3 separate regions of the Homo sapiens genome follow, and all the other regions are linked to region 2. Evidence: fine-mapped expression QTL. A gene starts in region 2. Each other region holds a variant in brackets. All regions are shown on one strand. Distances are from middle to middle.

Region 1 (6,836 bases), 440 kb after region 2:
AGTTCGAGACCAGCCTGTCCAACATGGTGAAACCCCGTCTCTACTAAAAATACAAAAATGAGCCAGGTATGGTTGTGGGCACCTGTAGTCCCAGCTACTCGGGAGGCTGAGGCAGGAGAATCGCCCCTCTACCTTTACTGCCTCCCTCTGTAGCCCAGATTAGGATAACTTCCCCAACCACCTGCTGGCTGTAGAGCAAGAGTTCAGGGAGAAAACCACAGGCAGAGGTGAGGGGTGCCATGGAGTTGCTGCAGAGACCAGCCAGGTCAGAGCTCAGGAGCATGAAAGAGGTAGTCAATGACAGACCACAACAAACAAAATAACAGCCTTTTTTTTTTTAAGTTAATGACTCAATAATTTTTTATGAGAAGGTGGGGATAAAGTTTCTTTCTCTTTCAGATCTTGGGTGGTGGACTAACCCAAGCCAAGAAGCCGGAGAATAGAGAGGAGGCAGGAGATGGAGACCTCAGGAGGAGGAAGAGGGGAGGGCCAGAGGGAAGGGTGAAGGCAGGGTGAGTGGAGGTAGTCAGGACAGGAGGAAGCTGGCAAAGACAAGGAAGCAGCCTTCAGGGCCTTCCCCGTGGGGCAGCTGCACACACAAGACTCTCTTTGATGCCTGGCAGGCTGATGGCACAATGGTGAGGATAATAGATGCAGGATGGAGCCAAGAGGGGTTGAGTGGCGCTGGGGATAAGAGAAGACCCTTGCCCCGGGCAGCCACAGGGAGTCTTCCTTGATGGGCACATGATCCCTCACTGATGGGAGCCAGGAAGACAGATACCCAATGCACCAAGGCCCAATTTTGCTCCCCTTCCCCCACTCTGGTTTGGAAACCCTGTATTCTACTTGCAATCTCAAGCCCAGACTTTATTCTTTTTCCTAGCCAATAAAAACTTCACCCCAGAGCTTTTATCCAAAGAGTATGAATATCTGGAATAAGAGGGCAATCTTAGGGAAGAAGTGACCCTGGCTGATGGGCCCACAGTCCCGGGTGCCCCTAAATGCTAAGAGACAGGTCCAAATACAAAGACGAGCATTTGGAGACACAGGAACACATACGTGCGCAGGCTTACACAAGCACATGCACAGCCACATAGCCACACACTACACATACACAAGCACTTATGCACATGTCCACACAGGCGTAGATACTCTAGCAAGCACATACTCACAGAGGCGCGCACACACACACACACACACACACAGGCGTAGATACTCTGGTAGGCACATACAGAGGCGCGCACACACACACACGCACAAATACACACAAGCACACTCACAGGCACATTCACACACGTGGAAATTCACACACAGGCACAGATACACACTCATGCAGGCACGTGCACGAGCAACACGCAGGTATACAGGAACACACACATGCCCAGACACACAAATCCACACACACCCAGGCACCCACTAAAGAGCACGAGCTGGTCAGGGGCAGCGGCTCACACCTGTGATCCCAGCACTTTGGGAGGCCGACACGGGTGGATCACCTGAGGTCAGGAGTTTGAGACCAGCCTGGCCAACATGGTGAAATCCCTTCTCTACTAAAAATACAAAATTGCTGGGCATGGTGGTGGGTGCCTGTAATCCCAGCTACTCGGGAGGATGAGGCAGGAGAATCACTTGAACCCAGGAGGCAGAGGTTGCAGTGAGCCGAGATCGCACCACTGCACTCCAGCCTGGGCAAGAGTGAGACCCTGTCTCTAAATAAATAAATAAATAAATAAAGCACAGGCTCCCACACATACACACTTAAACACATACACGCACACCCCATAATTCAAACACCAGTTGCCCTAGGCCACTTGAGAGTATCCTGGCCAGCTGCCCTGAGTAGTTTACTCTGGGCTACAGCCCGGGCCCTCCTCCTTCTCTGCCCCACCCCCAGCTGGTTGTATAAATTCCCTCCCTTCGCTCCTTCCCCGGAACAGCGGCCTCTGACACCAGCACAGCAAACCCGCCGGGATCAAAGTGTACCAGTCGGCAGCATGGGTAAGGAGAGGGGTTTCCAATCACCCATTGCCTGCTCTGTCTGCCCCTAATTTGGAAGGCCCTCCTCCAGAAAATGCTAGAAAACCTGAGTGGGGAGCTGGGGAGGGAGTAGTGGACTCTGCTTCATTGTCCCCAGTCTGCACACCCCCTCCCCCACCACCCCACTGCATTTCCCAGCTCAGCCAAACTTTCTGAGGAAGACGGGCAGAGGCACTGCTGGGAGATGGGATCCTGGGCCCTGACTTGGCTCCATCCAGCAGAGGCTGGGACCAGGGTGCCTTTCTGCAGCTGGGAAAATCAGATGGGCGCTCTTAGAAAACACCACTAGGTCCCTGGCCCTCACATAGTAGAGAGGTGATCCTGATTTCAGCCATGGGCCAACTTTGTACTCCAGCGAGGTAGGGAGTCCAAAGCCTTTCTGTGCCCAGGTCACTCTCTAGCTACTCCACACAGCAAAGCTCTCTGGGAGGGAAATCAGAGACCCCCACACTCTTTCACTGGGGACCTGTTTCAATGCCTCCCCCACCCCTAAATCCCCCTTGGCCCTGCTATTCCTCCATCTGTAGGCTTCTGGGTGACAGGCTAAGAAGGAACTGAGGTTTGGTTGGGAGGTCCTTCCCCGCTCGGGGCTGGCTCTTGAGCTGGCAGAATGCCGAGCTGGCAGAATGCCCAGCAGCCAGCCTGACATGGAAAACCCACTTGAGCTTTCCATGAGTCCATCCCAAACCCAAAGCTGCTCCGAGACCTTGCTTGAGATGTTTCAGATGGGGGTATTCCCCAGAAAGAGGAATGATGCTCCCTGGGGCTGCAGTGGCATGCCAGGCCTGACCCTAAGAAATGCTGGGGCTGGGGTTGCTGGGGTGTGGGGTGGGCCGAGGCTGCAGAGCGGGCAGCTCCATCTCTGCACTTTTACTTCCCTCTCAGCTTCTCCCTAGCTTTGTATTTTTTGTATCTCTGTCTTGAGGTCTTGGAGTTTTAAAATCTCCTTTCCCTTCTGTATCCAGCAACCTCCTTCCCCACCCCCTGTCATCTGGTGCCAAGCCCCGACTTAGCAAGATTGTGTAACAGAACCAGTCTCCTTAACTCCTGTGAACTGGACCTCTCTCTCTCTCCCTGCCCCACCTCCAGCCCTCTCGCTGGGCATCGAGCACTCCCTGGCATTCTCCTCTCCTCTGGCACAGCCCTTCCCATATTTACACAGTAATTCATTATTTTTTTTTTTTTTTAGTCAGAATTTCACTCTTGTTGCCCAGGCTGGAGTGACTGCAGTGGCGTGATTTCGGCTTACTGCAGCCTCCACCTCCCAGGTTCAAGTGATTCTCCTGCCTCAGCCTCCCAAGTAGCTGGGATTACAGGTGTATGCCTGTATTTTTTAATACAGGCTAATTTTTAATACAGGGTAATTTTTGTATTTTTAATAGAGACAGGGTTTTGCCATGTTAGTGAGGCTGGTCTCAAACTCCTGACCTTAGGTGATCTTTCCGCCTCAGCCTCCCAAAGTGCTGGGATTACAGGCATGAGCCACCGCACCCGGCCTAATTCATTTTTATGAAAGGCCTTTGGAATACATTGTCTTATTTGTCCTCCATATCTACCTAGCAAAGTAGGTAGAATATCATTATTGCCCACTTTTCGTAAATGAAGAGGAGAAAATGGAGAAACGGGGC[G/C]TCAAAACTGGGACTTGAAACCAGGTTTCCAGACTCTGAACGCTGTTGCTGCCTCTCAGCTTCCTAAGTCTCTTGGCTGCTGCGAGTGGGAGTCCCAGGCCCCAGTGGAGGCCCCACTCTGCCTACTCCTGGCTCCCCACTTGCGGCCCAGCTGTGAAGGCAGAGGCTGGACTGGCCACAGGACAAGGCAGGAGACAGGGCCCAGGCCTGTGGACTCCACTCCAGGGTTTCTTTCAGCCTGCCACCCCCTCTGGGTATTCTTTAACCCCTGCTCCCCAGCAGGCCCCAAACTCTGATGCTGGGGTGCTGGTAGCTGTGATGTCCCAGCCCTACTGCACATCTGCTGACTTACATCCTGGAGATTAGCATGGCCCCTCTTGCCAGACTTCAGAGATAGGGAGGGTTGCTCCCTATCTCTCTGGTGGGCAGGCCTCTGGGCTCTCCAGAGTTGGGCCAAACACCTTACTTTACAGATAAAGGAAGTGGGGCACACCCAGGGGTAGAAACCAGCCTGAGGACTTCCAGTTGGTATTAGCCCCAGACCCTCGGTTATGTAATCCAGCCCTTGGCTAGCAGCCTGGGATCAGGACCCAGGGGAGAGAAAAGCAGGAAGTGGCCTCCCCCTGATATAGAAGCATCTTGGTGAAGGGAGCTGAGCAGGCGCCACCCCACTCCCTGAGAGCAGCTCCTCAAGAACAGCCAAGGGTGCCTGGGCTTCGACCAGACAAACACAGAGCTGCACACCTACTGCACCCTCGTGTTTACTTCTCGTAAAAGCCCACTGTGAAATTCTTACCATCTCCATTTTACAGAGGATGCAGAAATTGAGGTCGAGGAGCTTCAGTACTTTGCCCAAGCTCCCCTGGCTAGTCAGTGGTGGGCTGGGGTTGGGCCCCGAGTCCGTGTCATATTCACTACACCACACGACCCCGGCTGCATCAGCCCTCCTCCCACCCTCCCGGGGCCCTGCTGGACTGTCTGTCCACCTTCAGGTCATGTGTCTCCAGCTCTTCCCAGCACAACCTCACCCTCCTCAGGGCTCTGAGGGGGCGGAGAGGACAGGCCAGAGCGATGAGGCTGGAGTGGGGACCTAGGCCAGCCGCACTGCCGTGGCCCGCTGGGATGTGTGCTGCAGAACGTGCGGAGGGAGCCTTCACCCTCCAGAGCGTGGCCCAGCCAATGCGCCCCATTGCTTCCACAGCTACGAAATGTGGGAATTGTGGACCCGGCTACTCCACCCCTCTGGAGGCCATGAAAGGTAATTGCCCATGGTCTGAGAGCCAGCGCCCTACTACTGATTCCACAGCTGGGGGTGGAGGGACTTCAGACCTAGCCCCCACCCTCTGGCACACCCAGCACTTCCCCTACCTTTCCTTCCCACCCTGCCGTCCCTGCTGCCTGCTTTCTACCGTGCAGGACCCAGGGAAGAGATCGTCTACCTGCCCTGCATTTACCGAAACACAGGCACTGAGGCCCCAGATTATCTGGCCACTGTGGATGTTGACCCCAAGTCTCCCCAGTATTGCCAGGTTAGGCGGGGCTTGGGCGCCAGCTACTTTGAGACCATAGCTGCCCTCATCCCTGGCCCTGGGCCCCCCCTTCCCAGCTCCATCCTTCTTGGCCCTCCCTGGGGATGCTTGTGCACGCTCAACCTGGGACAAGGGGAGTGCTGAAATCCAGCCTGTGCCGTGCTTCCAAACCAAAATGAGTCCACAGGGCGCCTCTTCCAAAAGTGGACAGAGGCGTGGCCTGGGGGAGCACCACCTCTCCCCGCATCCTAGGTCATCCACCGGCTGCCCATGCCCAACCTGAAGGACGAGCTGCATCACTCAGGATGGAACACCTGCAGCAGCTGCTTCGGTGATAGCACCAAGTCGCGCACCAAGCTGGTGCTGCCCAGTCTCATCTCCTCTCGCATCTATGTGGTGGACGTGGGCTCTGAGCCCCGGGCCCCAAAGCTGCACAAGGCATGTCCTCTGCCCTTGCCAGCTCAGTAGACCATAAGACACCTGCCACCCCAGGTAGTCTACGGGCAGGAAGCCAGACCTAAACCAGCAGCCTCCAGCTCTTACGCGGCAACTGGCTCGGCAGCAGGGAGGGAGGTTGGACCTCAGAGCAGAGTCTACCCAGGCATTCTGGGTCATCACCCTCCAGCACGGTGACCAGGGCATGGGAGAAGAGGGACAAGGCTTCTTGTTTTACTCTGAGAGAGGGAGGGAGCCATTTATTCCCCCATGCAGTTAGGAGCTCAGGGTTCTCTTAAAAATTCCGGTCTCTCCCAACACTTTGTTTAGTGCACTTTTGGTGCCAGGCATTTACTGTGTTGTCTACTGGTAATACAGAGTTGACACTGGTGTAGGCCAGCCTGGGAGGAGCTTATGGTTTCACAGGGCTGCGTGTGCCTTCAGGACACATGGGGAAAGGTCAGCGCTTTCTGCCTGGGGAGTTATTAGCAATCTCTCTGACTTTCCCTTGCTGCTCTGTAGAAGTTACCAGACTGAATCTTTGTCATATTCCCACAGGGAGAGTTGTGTCCATGTTTTGAAGGAAAAGATGACAGAGTCAGCAGATAGAAGTAGGGGAAGTATGGAGGTTAAGAGCAGGGACTCCCAGTCCTGTATGATTCTGACACCATTCCCCACCCCTTCCAGGTCATTGAGCCCAAGGACATCCATGCCAAGTGCGAACTGGCCTTTCTCCACACCAGCCACTGCCTGGCCAGCGGGGAAGTGATGATCAGCTCCCTGGGAGACGTCAAGGGCAATGGCAAAGGTACCTGCCAGCACTGTGTGCTCATGAAAACTTCCACAGCTGTGAAATGTGGGAAGCATTTTTCTGTGGGAGGAGCAGAATGGAAGGGGAGGGTTGGAATGACTTCCCAAGGAGAACCAGTGAGCTGGATCCCAGCCAGTATTTTAAATGTTAGCAAGTAACTTCAGTTTTGAATATTTCTATTAAGATGAGTCTTCACTGATGAATTCAGTTCAAAGTTATAGTCAAAACAGGCCAGGTGTTGTGCCTCACTCCTCTAATCCCAGCACTTCAAGAGGCCGAGGCCAGCGGATCGCTTGAGCTCAGGAGTTCCAAACCAGCCTGGCCAACATGGTGAAACCCCATCTCTGTGTTGTCTGCTGATAATACAGAGTTGGCACTGGCAACTCTGCACTAAAA
Region 2 (6,836 bases):
CCAAGAACAACAGGAGAAAAATAAGGAGGCAAAATAGTGTGTATGTGGAGAATCACTCATGGTACATCCTCACTAAAGTGTAAAATCAGGAGCTGGGATAGACTGGTGGGGCAGAAGAGCACCAGATGATCAGCCTGAAAATTAGGTCAGGGGCAAATCAGAGAGGACTTTCAATGCCATATAAGCGTTAAAGCTTTATTTCTAGGCCACAGGGAGCTCCAAAGGCTAGAAAAATGACACAATCAGAGCTGTCATTTAGGCAATTTACTTTGGAACCAGTATAAAGGAACCATTTATGTAATTATTCAAGCAGGCCTTTGCTATGTGCCAGGCACAGGGCTGGGTGTTAAGGATACAGCAATGACTTACACGGTCTGTGCTCTCAAGAACTTGAACTTTAATCTGCTACAGGATGGATTTGAAGGAGGAGAGACAGGAATCTGGGAGAGCAATTGGAAAGCACATCCGGTTGGATCTGCTTTCAAAATACATCACCTTCCCTACTATTACCACCACCCTGGCCCCTACCAGCTCTCAGCTTTCACTTGGACTTTAAGAGAGGCCTCCTAACTGAGCCCCTGTTCCACCCTCATCTGCCCTGTAGCAACCACACCTACTCCGCACCCACGGTAGCCCTTTTAAAAATGCAATCTCATCATGCCCTACTCCTGTGGTTTTTTTCTTGTTTTTGTTGTTGTTGTTTGTTTGTTCTGTTTGTTTGTTTTGAGGCAGACTTGCTCTGTCGCCCAGGCTGGAGTGCAGTGGTGTGATCTCGGCTCACTGCAACCTCCACCTCCCAGGTTCAAGCGATTGTCCTGCCTCAGCCTCCTGAGTAGCTTGGATTACAGGGATTACACGCCCGGCTAATTTTTGTATTTTTAGTAGAGACAGGGTTTCACCATGTTGGCCAGGCTGGTCTCGAACTCCTGACCTCAGGTGATCTGCCCACCTTGGCCTCCCAAAGTGTTGGGATTACAGGCGTGAACCACCACACCTGGCCTTGACTCCTGTTCTCAGCCCTCCTGTAGCTGCCTGTGATGCCGAGAATCAAATCTAGAGTCTGCGTCATGGTCAAGTGGCTCATAACATGATCCCTGCCTTCTTTTCTCACTTGATCTTCCACTGCCCCTTCAAACACCCATTGCAGCCACACTTGCTTCCTTGCTATTCCTCGAACACATCAAACCCAGTCGCAGGGCTTTTGTACCTGCTATTGTAGTCACCTGGAGGGTTCTTCCCCCAGTTTTCCAAATGGCTTACCCCATCTCTTCATTCGGGAGAGGTTTTTCCTGACCAGTAACCCCATACAAAAAGCTTTAGTTTTCTTTAAAGAACTTATTATCTGATACACTACATATTTATTTTCTGGGCCCCTCACCAGAATGTAAATTTAATCAAGGTACAGATTATACTTTATTGACTGATATATCTGATATATCACTAGAGGCCATCACAGTGCCTAGCTCAGATCCAGATGTGTTCTCAACAAATATTTGTTGAATGAATGAAGGAAGCTATTGCCATAGCCCAAAAAAGCTCAGAATAAAGCAGTGGTGAGGAAGAGAGAGAATCTAGGAGATATGAAGGGATCACACCCTGCTGCCTGCTTTTCTCTGACTGCCTCTTTCCAAGGAAACTAAGCTGGGGGAGGGAGGCAATGGCAGGCAAGAGACATTTTTAAGCCTCTTGGTTGTAGAGGAGACTGCAAGAGATAAATTGTTCTTTCAGCCTTGCTCCAGTGAGGTCTCCCTGCCTCCGTCTGCTCACTGGTTTCTGTGCCTTTTTCATCTCCCCTTTGGCTGAGTGCTGGCAGCATTGGTTTGCTACTTGCAGTGTTAGGTGCCTGCTTAGAAAGTCTGTTTAGTTCAAAGAGTTATTAAGCATGTGCCATGTGCTAAGCATTATGATAGGTACAGAGGAGACAGGGAAAGAGAGACCTCAGCCAAGGAGCTGAAATCTAGGGTGGGAAGGCAGACAAATTGGACCATTTTCCTGCAATGTAGTAAGTGCTACACAGAGGAAAGCCCAAAAGAAGGGCCCTTAATCCAGATGGGAGGCAGTTAGGGAAATAGTCTTAGGAGAGGTGACACTAGAGGGTAAGGATTAGTAATGGGAAGAGGGGAACAACATGCACAAAGGCAGAGGCATGTGACAGCATACAACAAGAGTCACAGACAATCACTCTTATAAAAGCAGGAAGTGCACATTAGAGTCTTTGACAAGGTTCATTCTAGAAGTATTGGGAACATAAATTGAGGGCTTCACCCAGAAAACATTCACCTGTGCCCCACCCACTCTCACTTCCCTCCAGTGTCCTGAACACACACGTACTTCTACCAGTGGGATTTGGCTGGTGCCAAAGTGCCAAGTACATAAGGGGAAGGCAAGGAGGGTTTGTCCTAGCCCAGGAAGAATGAGCGGACTTCTTTGCTCTGAGGAGAGCTGAAGTATTGACCCTCCCTTCCCCATTAACCCATATCCAGCTGCCACCCAAGGGGAAGCTTCGGAGCCTGTGTAGCCAGCATGTGGAAAGGCTGCAGATCTTCCAGCACCTCCACCCCATCGTGGTCCAAGCCGCTTTCCCTCCACTCTACAAGGAGCTCTTCAGCACTGAAACCGAGTCACCTGTGGGGCTGTCCAAGTGACCTGGAAGAGGGACTCCTTGCCTCTCCCTATGGCCTGCTGGCCCACCTCCCTGGACCCCGTTCCACCCTCACCCTTTTCCTTTCCCATGAACCCTGGAGGGTGGTCCCCACCAGCTCTTTGGAAGTGAGCAGATGCTGCGGCTGGCTTTCTGTCAGCAGGCCGGCCTGGCAGTGGGACAATCGCCAGAGGGTGGGGCTGGCAGAACACCATCTCCAGCCTCAGCTTTGACCTGTCTCATTTCCCATATTCCTTCACACCCAGCTTCTGGAAGGCATGGGGTGGCTGGGATTTAAGGACTTCTGGGGGACCAAGACATCCTCAAGAAAACAGGGGCATCCAGGGCTCCCTGGATGAATAGAATGCAATTCATTCAGAAGCTCAGAAGCTAAGAATAAGCCTTTGAAATACCTCATTGCATTTCCCTTTGGGCTTCGGCTTGGGGAGATGGATCAAGCTCAGAGACTGGCAGTGAGAGCCCAGAAGGACCTGTATAAAATGAATCTGGAGCTTTACATTTTCTGCCTCTGCCTTCCTCCCAGCTCAGCAAGGAAGTATTTGGGCACCCTACCCTTTACCTGGGGTCTAACCAAAAATGGATGGGATGAGGATGAGAGGCTGGAGATAATTGTTTTATGGGATTTGGGTGTGGGACTAGGGTACAATGAAGGCCAAGAGCATCTCAGACATAGAGTTAAAACTCAAACCTCTTATGTGCACTTTAAAGATAGACTTTAGGGGCTGGCACAAATCTGATCAGAGACACATATCCATACACAGGTGAAACACATACAGACTCAACAGCAATCATGCAGTTCCAGAGACACATGAACCTGACACAATCTCTCTTATCCTTGAGGCCACAGCTTGGAGGAGCCTAGAGGCCTCAGGGGAAAGTCCCAATCCTGAGGGACCCTCCCAAACATTTCCATGGTGCTCCAGTCCACTGATCTTGGGTCTGGGGTGATCCAAATACCACCCCAGCTCCAGCTGTCTTCTACCACTAGAAGACCCAAGAGAAGCAGAAGTCGCTCGCACTGGTCAGTCGGAAGGCAAGATCAGATCCTGGAGGACTTTCCTGGCCTGCCCGCCAGCCCTGCTCTTGTTGTGGAGAAGGAAGCAGATGTGATCACATCACCCCGTCATTGGGCACCGCTGACTCCAGCATGGAGGACACCAGGGAGCAGGGCCTGGGCCTGTTTCCCCAGCTGTGATCTTGCCCAGAACCTCTCTTGGCTTCATAAACAGCTGTGAACCCTCCCCTGAGGGATTAACAGCAATGATGGGCAGTCGTGGAGTTGGGGGGGTTGGGGGTGGGATTGTGTCCTCTAAGGGGACGGGTTCATCTGAGTAAACATAAACCCCAACTTGTGCCATTCTTTATAAAATGATTTTAAAGGCAAGAAGTGTGTGTGTCAGAGGGTGGGGGAGATTCTTAAATTAGATTACCTGCATGCCTGCTCTCCAGTCTCATTCCTGGGTCAAGACTCAGGTTTCCAGCTCAGCAATCCATCAGCATTATACAGATCCAACCCACCCTCACCCGACCCCTGCAGTTTCTCCCCAGGTGGAGCAGTCCCTCAGTGAGGACTGTGAACGAATCTTCAGGAACCCCCACTGTAGGAGCCTCAAACTGAGCCCCACGGGAGATGCTCTAGACTGAGAACTTCCCATAAATGATACCCACGGGGAACGTTTAGATTTAGAGGTTGCACAGAATTGCTCCACATCTGGGAGACCAAAAGACAGTCCTCTGGAAGGTGGCTGGCCCAAGCTCCCCAGTGGGGGAATCAGGATGTCAGAGAGATCCTCTAGAACCTGCTGTTCTTGCTATTGCATGACCCCTCCCTGGCACCAGAGCCTCCCTCCTGGCTCCCTCCCCTGTCACTTGCCAGCCTGTAGTGGTGCTTGCTGCAGCCCTCCCTGGTTGCTTTATTTATTTATTTTGCACCAACAGGGTTGCTGCAGACTCATTCTTGCCTGGTTTAAAAAGAGAGAGAGAGAGAGAGGAAAAAAAAAAAGGAGAAATGCTTTCTGGCTCTTTTCTCCACCTCAGTCTTGGCAGCAGCGGCCGCAGCAGCAACAGCAGCAGCAGCAGCGGCAGGCAGCAGCCGGGCAGCCAGGCAGCGGGGGTTGAGGCACACAGGGAAGGTGCAGGGGCCTGAGGTGCAGCTCGAATGGGACAGGGCCCCCAGCGCTGGACAGATGCAGTGCCAAACTTGATGCCACCTTCCAGCTTCTCCGGTAAGTGCCCCCACTCTCTGTCCCAAAGATGCAGCCGCCCTTTTCCATAACATTCTCCGAGACAGGCCAGACTAGGGGCCAGACAGGCCCCTCAAGGCAAGAGGGTTTGGGCCCCCACACTGCTAACAATTAATCCTGGCCCCATGGGACTTTGAGGGGGAAACTCAAATATCCCAAGTACCCCTGGGTGGAAGGGCTCCAAGGAGACCTCCCTTCCATCTCCCCAGTGCTTCCCCTTCCTCTGGAAGGGTTTTTCTCCACAATCGGTGTGGATCTTCCAGAAATCTTTCCCCCAGGAACCCTCTCCCCACACAGTTCCCATTTGTCAGTCAGGTGTGCTTTAAAGAGGATACAGGATACCCAGGTTCAAAAGTGTCTCTGGACTGCCACATAAAGACAAGAAAAAGGCTCCCTACCCTTGAGGGGTGATGCCTTCAAGGGTCATGTCTTGGTGATGTCCCCACCCCACTGAAGGGACAAAAAAGTGGTTCTGACATCTCGCTTCCTGCAAAGTGGCCGGAAGCCGGTCCTGCAGCCATGGAGGTTGGCAAGGGAAATTTGTGATTAAATTAGCCACCTTAGAAATAAAATAGGTTGCTCCAGCTCCCTCAGCCCCTGGCCCAGCGGACTCAGGGGAAACTCACAGGAGCAGGAAGGAAGAAAGCTGGGTTACATGCTTCACTGCACTTTTGCTGAATGCAGAGCGAGGATGGGCAGGAACTGCAGCAGTAGTGATGAAGAGCTAGCTGTCAGGTGGACTTCCCAGAACAAGCCTAGGGAGAACAAGGGAGGCTGGGCCATCTTTCCCGGGAGAGCTCTGGGCATGCCACAGAGACCTGTTAGGTCAGTTTGGGGCGAGAAGAGTCTGCTCTGCAGTCTTTGCCCCACGTTATTCTTTTTCATCCCCAAGCCTCACACCAGTTTTCTGCATCCCTCTGCTCTTTTGGCCTCTTTCTTTAGTTTCCCAACTAGGACAATCCTCTCAAGTGGCTGTAGGATAGCCACTAGAATGATCCTTCTAGGAGGTGGAGAGTGGGAAGGAAAGGGGAAGAAATGACCATCTCTTAAACTGCCTCTCCTAAGTTCCACATGAGAAAAAACAGGGCATGTAGTAGAAAGCTGACCCTGTAGAGCCCAGAGAGCCTGAAGCCCACAAGCCCAAAGGTGATCAGGATTGCCGCTCAGCAGAGACTCAGACGCGCTGTATCCCAGAGAGCATCCATGGGCTTTTGCTCCTATCTCTGTAGCCATCCCTTGCCAATTCCAGTACTTCCTCTGCCTTGGGGTCCCTGTTGACATCTAACAGGATGAGTCAGGGGCCCTCATCACCTAGAGGGCCCCTTCTCCTCTGTCACCTCAGCCATTGTAGTCACCATCTTCCTGAGGGTTCCCGGAACCTGGTACCCAGAAACTGACTATAAGTCTACAGGCTCTGCACACTGTCTGTGCCCAGATACCTGCTGTGCCAGCCAACGGCTCCCTTCCTCCCCATCCTACAGCACTTGGTCAGATGCTGTCTCTCCTCACTTATCTATGCTCCCTGGTCCACAATCTGTCTCTTGGGAATTTCTCAGGCAGCTCAGGCCAAAAGGGACAAGAGCTCTCCCTCAGATCCACACACTGGACCAGAATCCAAACACCATTAAGGAGGGATATGAGGGAAGCCCAAGACTGAAGACCAAGCAACAGAACTCAAAACCTGGGCATCCTTTGGGTCTCTCACACACCCCAACTTCAATTGCAGTAGAGAAGCAGTTGCCCCTGGGCTCTTGCAGGGGATTCCCAGCTTCCCAGTCAAGTGCCTCCTGCATCCTATGCCACAGCTAATGTACAGCTTGGCAGTTGTCCACACAGGCATTTTGGGGAGATTGGATCTTGTTAGTCCAGGGCTCAGGCCCTGGGCCAGGCTGGAAGAGGGCTCAGCATGGGGGTGGAGCTGAGGCCTGCAT
Region 3 (6,508 bases), 400 kb after region 2:
TGAGCTTGGATATTGTAAGTTAGCAGTATCTGTGGATGTCAAGTGTAGCTGTTGGATAATAGATCTCAAGCCTGTGAGAGAACTCTGGGTTGTAGAAAAGATTTAGGAATCAGCGTTATATAAATCCTATAGATTTTAAACTTAAATACCATGGGCCCCCCAACCCTGTTGAGAATAAGAGAAGGCTTAGGATATTTGAAGTCCCTTATCTATAAAGCAACCACCATAGTACTAGGAGGAAAACCAGAAGAGTCTTAACCTTAAGGAAACTGGGGAGAAGAAAGTGTTTTAAAGAAAAGGGTGTGATCAAAATGTCATATGTTACAGGAAGGTGTCAAGCAACATAGAGACTTAGAAACAGGCCTTTAATTTAGCAACATTGATGAGAGCCATTTTGTTGGTTGGTAGGGTGGAAGTCACATTTCAGCAGAACAAATGAATGAGAGGTAAGGAAATGAAGACGATGTATTTAAAGAAGTTTATTTATAAAAAGGGAGGACCCAGGGTAGGTAAATCCAGAGGAAGAAGTGGCAAAGAAGAGTTTTTTATTGCTTTTATTTTCCTTATAAGATGAAAAGCTATGACTTCGTTTTAAAATACTACAAGAAGAGAGCCACTAGAGGAGAGTGAAAGGTATATAGTATATAAGAGAGGATTCAAAATGGAGAATAAGATGAGTGCATGTGTGCTTAATAGTCACATACATATGCACACAAACATATGTACCCTATTACACTCATAGTCTCCTTTGCACAGTAGTGACTGCTGATTGTCTACCACAACTGTATTTCCAAATAGGGGCATGGAAATTGTCTCTTAGCCTAAGCTTACAGAGCTTTGTTATCCTACTAAAGAAAATCATAGACATGGGTTCTATTTTTGAAGGACTTCAATACTAGGCAGACTGAATCCTCAAAGTGGTCTCACCAGGAGACATATCTGTATATACTGATGTGTTAAGTGAGAAAACAGCAAGGTATAGACAAGTGCTATCATTTGTGTTAAAAGGAGAAAAAGAAGAGGGCTGAGGTGGGAGGATCACTTGAGCCCAGGAGGTGGAGTCCAGCCTGGGCAACATGGTGAGACAACATCTCTACAAAAAGGAAAGGGAAAAAAGTAAGGGCCAGGCACAGTGATGCACGCCTGTAATCCCAACACTTTGGGAGGCCAAGGCAGGTAGATCACTTGAACCCAGGAGTTGAAGACCAGCCTGGGCAACATGGTGACACCCCGTCTCTACAAAAAAATACAAAAAGTAGCCGGGCGTGGTGGCACGTGCCTGTAGTCCCAGCTACTTGGGACGTGCAGTGAGCTATGAACATGCCACTGCACTCCAGCCTGGGCTACAGAGAGAGACCCTGTCTCAAAAAAAGGGGGCGAGGCAGGTAATGATTGGATATGAATGTATTTGTGATACAGTTATATGTGTAGACTGCCCACGAAAGCATACTCAGGAAACTGGTAATAAGTTGTTTGTATGGAAGGGGACTGAGTGTTGGAGTTGAAAGCAAAGTTGGAAGAGTATAGAAAAAAAAGTATGACTTTAGTTTACTATGTACATTGTCCTTTTTTAAAAAAAGAAGAATGAAGAATGTCCAGAAGAATGTCCAGTTGTCAGCAGTGTAAAGATATAATACAAATAAAGGTTACATCACTCATTCAAATTGTTAAAACAAGTCAGGAAAGGATGATTTGAGAACTTAGTCATCCTGGACTAGAATCCATCTTTCTTTGATATCATGGGAGGTGATGATTCTCAATGGTAGGTTTTGTGGTCATGTTGCATATTTCTTTCTTACTCTCTTAAATTATCAACAGAAAGGTGGGAAGAATGATATGGTTGACATTGATCTGCTTTCTCCTCAAAAAAGAAAATTTATTAGGAACCTTTAAGGGATTTTGTCTCTTTTTTTCCCTCCCCCACTTCAGAAGAGAAATGTTTATCACTGCAACAAATGCCGGCTGCAGTTTCTCTTTGCCAAGGACAAAATTGAACACAAGCTTCAACACCATAAAACCTTCCGTAAACCCAAGCAGCTGGAGGGCTTGAAACCAGGCACCAAGGTAAAGAGTTTGCCAGTGTCTTTTATAGGCCCAGGGAGGGAGGAATAGAGATTTTCAGTATTCTGAAATTTAGTGTGGGTGATGTCTCATTGTTACTTCCCTTGGTTCTCAGGTGACAATCCGGGCTTCCCGAGGGCAGCCACGAACTGTTCCTGTATCCTCTAATGATACACCTCCCAGCGCCTTGCAGGAGGCAGCACCGCTGACCTCCTCAATGGACCCTCTGCCTGTCTTCCTTTATCCCCCTGTCCAGCGCAGCATCCAGAAGAGAGCTGTTAGGAAAATGTCAGCGCCTTCTTCTAAGTGCTGGGCGGGTGGGGACTGGGTGGCCAGGATTATTCCTGATACACAGTGCAATCTGGTAGCTTTTTAGCAGGGTTTGTTGTCTGAAAATCCTACATTTTGGGGACCCATGAGGCAGTAATGAGAATTCTTTTTTTTTTTCCCCCACAGGAGTGTCATGGGCCGGCAGACATGCCTGGAGTGCAGCTTCGAGATCCCAGACTTCCCTAATCATTTCCCTACTTACGTACACTGCTCTCTGTGTCGCTATAGCACCTGCTGTTCTCGAGCTTATGCCAACCACATGATCAAGTAAGTTGGTTTTTAACCAGTGTTTTAGCTTGAGAGTTCAGATTCTTTTTTTCTTCTTCTTCTTCTTCTTTTTTTTTTTTTTTTTTTGAAGACAGGGTCTCACTCTGTCCCCTAGGCTGGAGTGCAATAGCATGATCTTGGCTCACTGCAACCTCTGCCTCCTGGGTTCAAGTGATTCTCCTGTCTCAGCCTCCCAAGTAGCTGGGATTATAGGTGTGCACCACCATGCCTGGCTGATTTTTTTGTATTTTTAGTAGAGACGGGGTTTCACCTTGTTGGCCAGGCTGGTCTCAAACTCCTGAGCTCAGGTGATCCACCTGCCTCGGCCTCCCTAAAGTGCTGGGATTACAGACATGAGCCACTGCGCCCGGCCCCAGCCAGATTCTTGAGCACTCATTTCATTTTCTCCCCTGCTTCTAATATGTTTCCTCCTTCAACTCTTAGAGCTATTTGTTCTTCTCTCCTAGCAGAGTGAGAGGCTCTGTTTTTTCGGTTTTGATGGTCTGTGCTCTAATTTCATAGGGCCTTGCTATTCAAGTACCAGTAGTATTAGGTGGGAGCTTGTTAGAAATGCTGACTCTCAGCCCCGCCCTAGGCCTACTGAACCAGAATGTGAATTTTAATAGATCCTCAGTGACTTGTATGCATATTAAAGTTTAAGAAGCATGGTGACAGGAAAACTGGCTTAGGTTGAGATTAGGGTGCACTGAAGAAGTGTCTCTTTTGTTGGGGGCATTGTCACTGGCTGGTGATCTCT[A/G]GCTTAGCCAGCAGAACTCCGTAACTCATACCACTTCTTTGTCTTTCTCAGCAATCATGTTCCACGGAAGAGCCCCAAGTATTTGGCTTTGTTTAAAAATTCTGTGAGGTAAGAAAAAACTTATTGGCAGCATCTTAATTTTTCAGGTTTTTACATTAATTTTCAGGTTTTTCATTATTTGGAGAGGTGGTTATGTGAATTAATTTCAGAAAAAGGAGAAAGTGGGAGGGCATTCCTTTTCTTTCTTAAGCCTCAAAGCTTAATGGTCTCAAGTGTCACTGCTGTGTTTGTCTTACATAGTCTCAATTCTCTTTTTTAGTGGAATCAAGCTGGCCTGCACTTCATGTACCTTTGTTACCTCTGTGGGCGATGCTATGGCCAAGCATTTGGTATTCAACCCCTCTCACAGATCCAGCAGCATCCTGCCACGGGGTAAGTAGGAGAGAAGGGGATTAGTTGAGCAAGGGGAGGAAAAAAGATACAGGTTCGTACTGTATGCATCAGGAGCATACCTACTTGGCCTCACTCATTCACTGTTGAGATGTGCTGGACCTAATTAGAAACCTTCCGACCTGAAGTTTATATAAAACTGGGAAAGCTGGTCACTGCGAACAGCGTATTTGTATGTAGTAAGTTGAATCCCAGGGCACTGTCTTTGGAGGGCTTATTTTTTCACTGAGCTAACTATTTTTGTTGTTTCATTTTCCATAGGACTCACTTGGATAGCTCACTCAAGGTAACAAAAACTCACCTCACAATTTAATTTCTGGTTTGCAGTGTGTTTACTCTGTTATTATTATTATTATTATCATATTATTGTTTCAATTTCCTAGTTGAACTGAGATTTCTCCTCTTCTCTTTGCTCCTCACCCCTTTAGGCATGGCCAGACTCGTGACCGAGTGCATGACCGGAACGTGAAGAATATGTACCCTCCTCCTTCCTTCCCCACTAACAAAGCTGCCACTGTGAAATCTGCGGGGGCCACCCCAGCTGAGCCTGAAGAGCTACTAACTCCCTTAGCCCCAGCACTCCCATCACCAGCCTCAACTGCAACCCCACCACCAACCCCCACTCACCCGCAGGCTTTAGCCCTTCCACCGCTGGCTACAGAGGGAGCCGAATGTCTGAATGTTGATGATCAGGATGAAGGGAGCCCAGTCACCCAAGAACCTGAGCTAGCATCAGGTGGTGGTGGTAGTGGTGGAGTTGGCAAAAAGGAGCAGCTGTCTGTGAAGAAGCTTCGAGTAGTACTGTTTGCTCTATGCTGCAATACAGAACAGGCAGCTGAACACTTCCGAAATCCCCAGCGACGTATTCGCCGTTGGCTTCGACGTTTCCAGGCCTCCCAGGGGGAGAATCTAGAGGGCAAATATCTGAGCTTTGAGGCAGAAGAGAAACTGGCTGAGTGGGTGCTAACCCAGCGCGAACAACAGCTACCTGTAAATGAGGAGACCTTGTTCCAGAAGGCCACCAAAATAGGACGTTCTTTGGAAGGGGGGTTTAAGATCTCCTATGAGTGGGCTGTGCGTTTCATGCTGCGGCACCACCTGACTCCCCATGCCCGGCGAGCTGTGGCCCACACCCTACCTAAGGATGTAGCAGAGAATGCAGGACTCTTCATTGATTTTGTACAACGGCAGATTCACAACCAGGACTTACCCTTGTCTATGATTGTGGCTATTGATGAGATCTCTTTGTTCCTGGATACAGAGGTGCTGAGCAGTGATGATCGAAAGGAGAATGCCCTGCAGACAGTGGGCACAGGGGAACCTTGGTGTGATGTAGTCCTAGCCATTCTGGCAGATGGCACTGTCCTTCCCACCCTGGTTTTCTACAGAGGGCAGATGGATCAGCCTGCTAACATGCCAGACTCCATATTGCTAGAGGCAAAGGAGAGTGGCTACAGTGATGACGAGATCATGGAGCTGTGGTCAACTCGAGTGTGGCAGAAGCACACAGCTTGCCAGCGCAGCAAAGGCATGCTTGTGATGGACTGTCATCGCACTCACTTGTCAGAAGAGGTACTGGCTATGCTTAGTGCCTCTAGCACTTTGCCTGCAGTGGTCCCAGCAGGCTGTAGCTCCAAAATTCAGCCATTAGATGTATGCATCAAAAGAACTGTCAAGAACTTCCTGCATAAAAAATGGAAGGAACAGGCTCGGGAAATGGCAGATACTGCATGTGATTCTGATGTCCTGCTTCAGCTGGTGCTTGTCTGGCTGGGTGAAGTGCTAGGTGTCATTGGGGACTGTCCAGAGCTAGTTCAGCGCTCCTTCCTGGTGGCTAGTGTTCTGCCTGGCCCCGATGGCAACATTAACTCACCTACAAGAAATGCTGACATGCAGGAGGAGCTAATTGCCTCCCTAGAGGAGCAACTGAAGCTGAGTGGGGAACATTCTGAGTCTTCCACTCCACGACCCAGATCATCTCCTGAAGAGACAATTGAGCCTGAAAGTCTTCACCAGCTCTTTGAGGGTGAAAGTGAGACCGAGTCTTTCTATGGCTTTGAAGAAGCTGACCTAGATCTGATGGAGATTTGAGTGTTGGGGTCATGAGGGGGTGTGGAGTGAGGGTGGGAACATGTGAGGGAGGGTAAAGGGGCTTAGGGAAAAGGGGGCATACCAGGTGGGGTATTTGGTTTCTATTTTTTAATTTTATACCACCACTCCCCCCTGAAGTTGACTTACACTTCCCTGTGGATTTGTGGATTAATTAGGAAAACCAATAGTAATCACGTCTGAGCCAAGGAGCTGGCCCATTGGTCATTCACTTCTGCTAAAAACAGGTTTTTGTGACTTTTTTTTTTTTTAAATTTAAATCACTGTGTTTGGTATTTTTCTGACAAAATTAAGAAAAAGAAAAAAAATTATTTGTGGGCAAATGTTAAATTTTTTTGTTTCCCCTTTTACCTCAATTGTATCATAGTACTGGGTTTTTTTGTTTGTTTTATTGTGTGGCCAATGTCTTTGGGCATGATGCTATCTAATCATTGTTAATGTGAGAACATTTCTGAAGATGGGAAAGACAAATTATGTAGCTCACAAACTGGTTTATTATATATATGGATAAAAAACTTTTTTCATTGTGGTCTT

What was found. PIP is the estimated chance that this variant, and not a neighbour inherited with it, causes the effect.
Region 1: its variant is the best candidate, but not a certain one, in a credible set for the expression of LINGO4 in whole blood (TOPMed, PIP 0.78).
Region 3: its variant is the best candidate, but not a certain one, in a credible set for the expression of LINGO4 in lung (TOPMed, PIP 0.81).

Annotation. Positions count from the first base shown.
Region 1 is chr1:151,367,800-151,374,635 of GRCh38, reverse strand. SELENBP1 (selenium binding protein 1) reads left to right here and starts at 1,931. Exons shown (of 12, transcript NM_003944.4): 1 at 1,931-1,998; 2 at 4,867-4,923; 3 at 5,082-5,194; 4 at 5,447-5,632; 5 at 6,317-6,437. The coding sequence starts at 1,995. RefSeq lists enhancers at 1,410-1,993, 1,994-2,577, 3,324-3,994, 3,995-4,666. The variant G/C (reference allele first, on the strand shown) is at 3,666.
Region 2 is chr1:151,803,281-151,810,116 of GRCh38, reverse strand. LINGO4 (leucine rich repeat and Ig domain containing 4) reads left to right here and starts at 4,698. Exons shown (of 2, transcript NM_001004432.4): 1 at 4,698-4,887. RORC (RAR related orphan receptor C) reads left to right here. Exons shown (of 11, transcript NM_005060.4): 11 at 2,484-4,046. The coding sequence ends at 2,645. RefSeq lists an enhancer at 771-1,271.
Region 3 is chr1:151,404,250-151,410,757 of GRCh38, reverse strand. It overlaps POGZ (pogo transposable element derived with ZNF domain), which reads left to right. Exons shown (of 19, transcript NM_015100.4): 13 at 1,930-2,064; 14 at 2,177-2,349; 15 at 2,518-2,658; 16 at 3,467-3,523; 17 at 3,735-3,847; 18 at 4,127-4,151; 19 at 4,294-6,508. The coding sequence ends at 5,956. Among named protein-coding and RNA genes, the nearest start is that of PSMB4, 7.9 kb to the right of the region's middle. The variant A/G (reference allele first, on the strand shown) is at 3,416.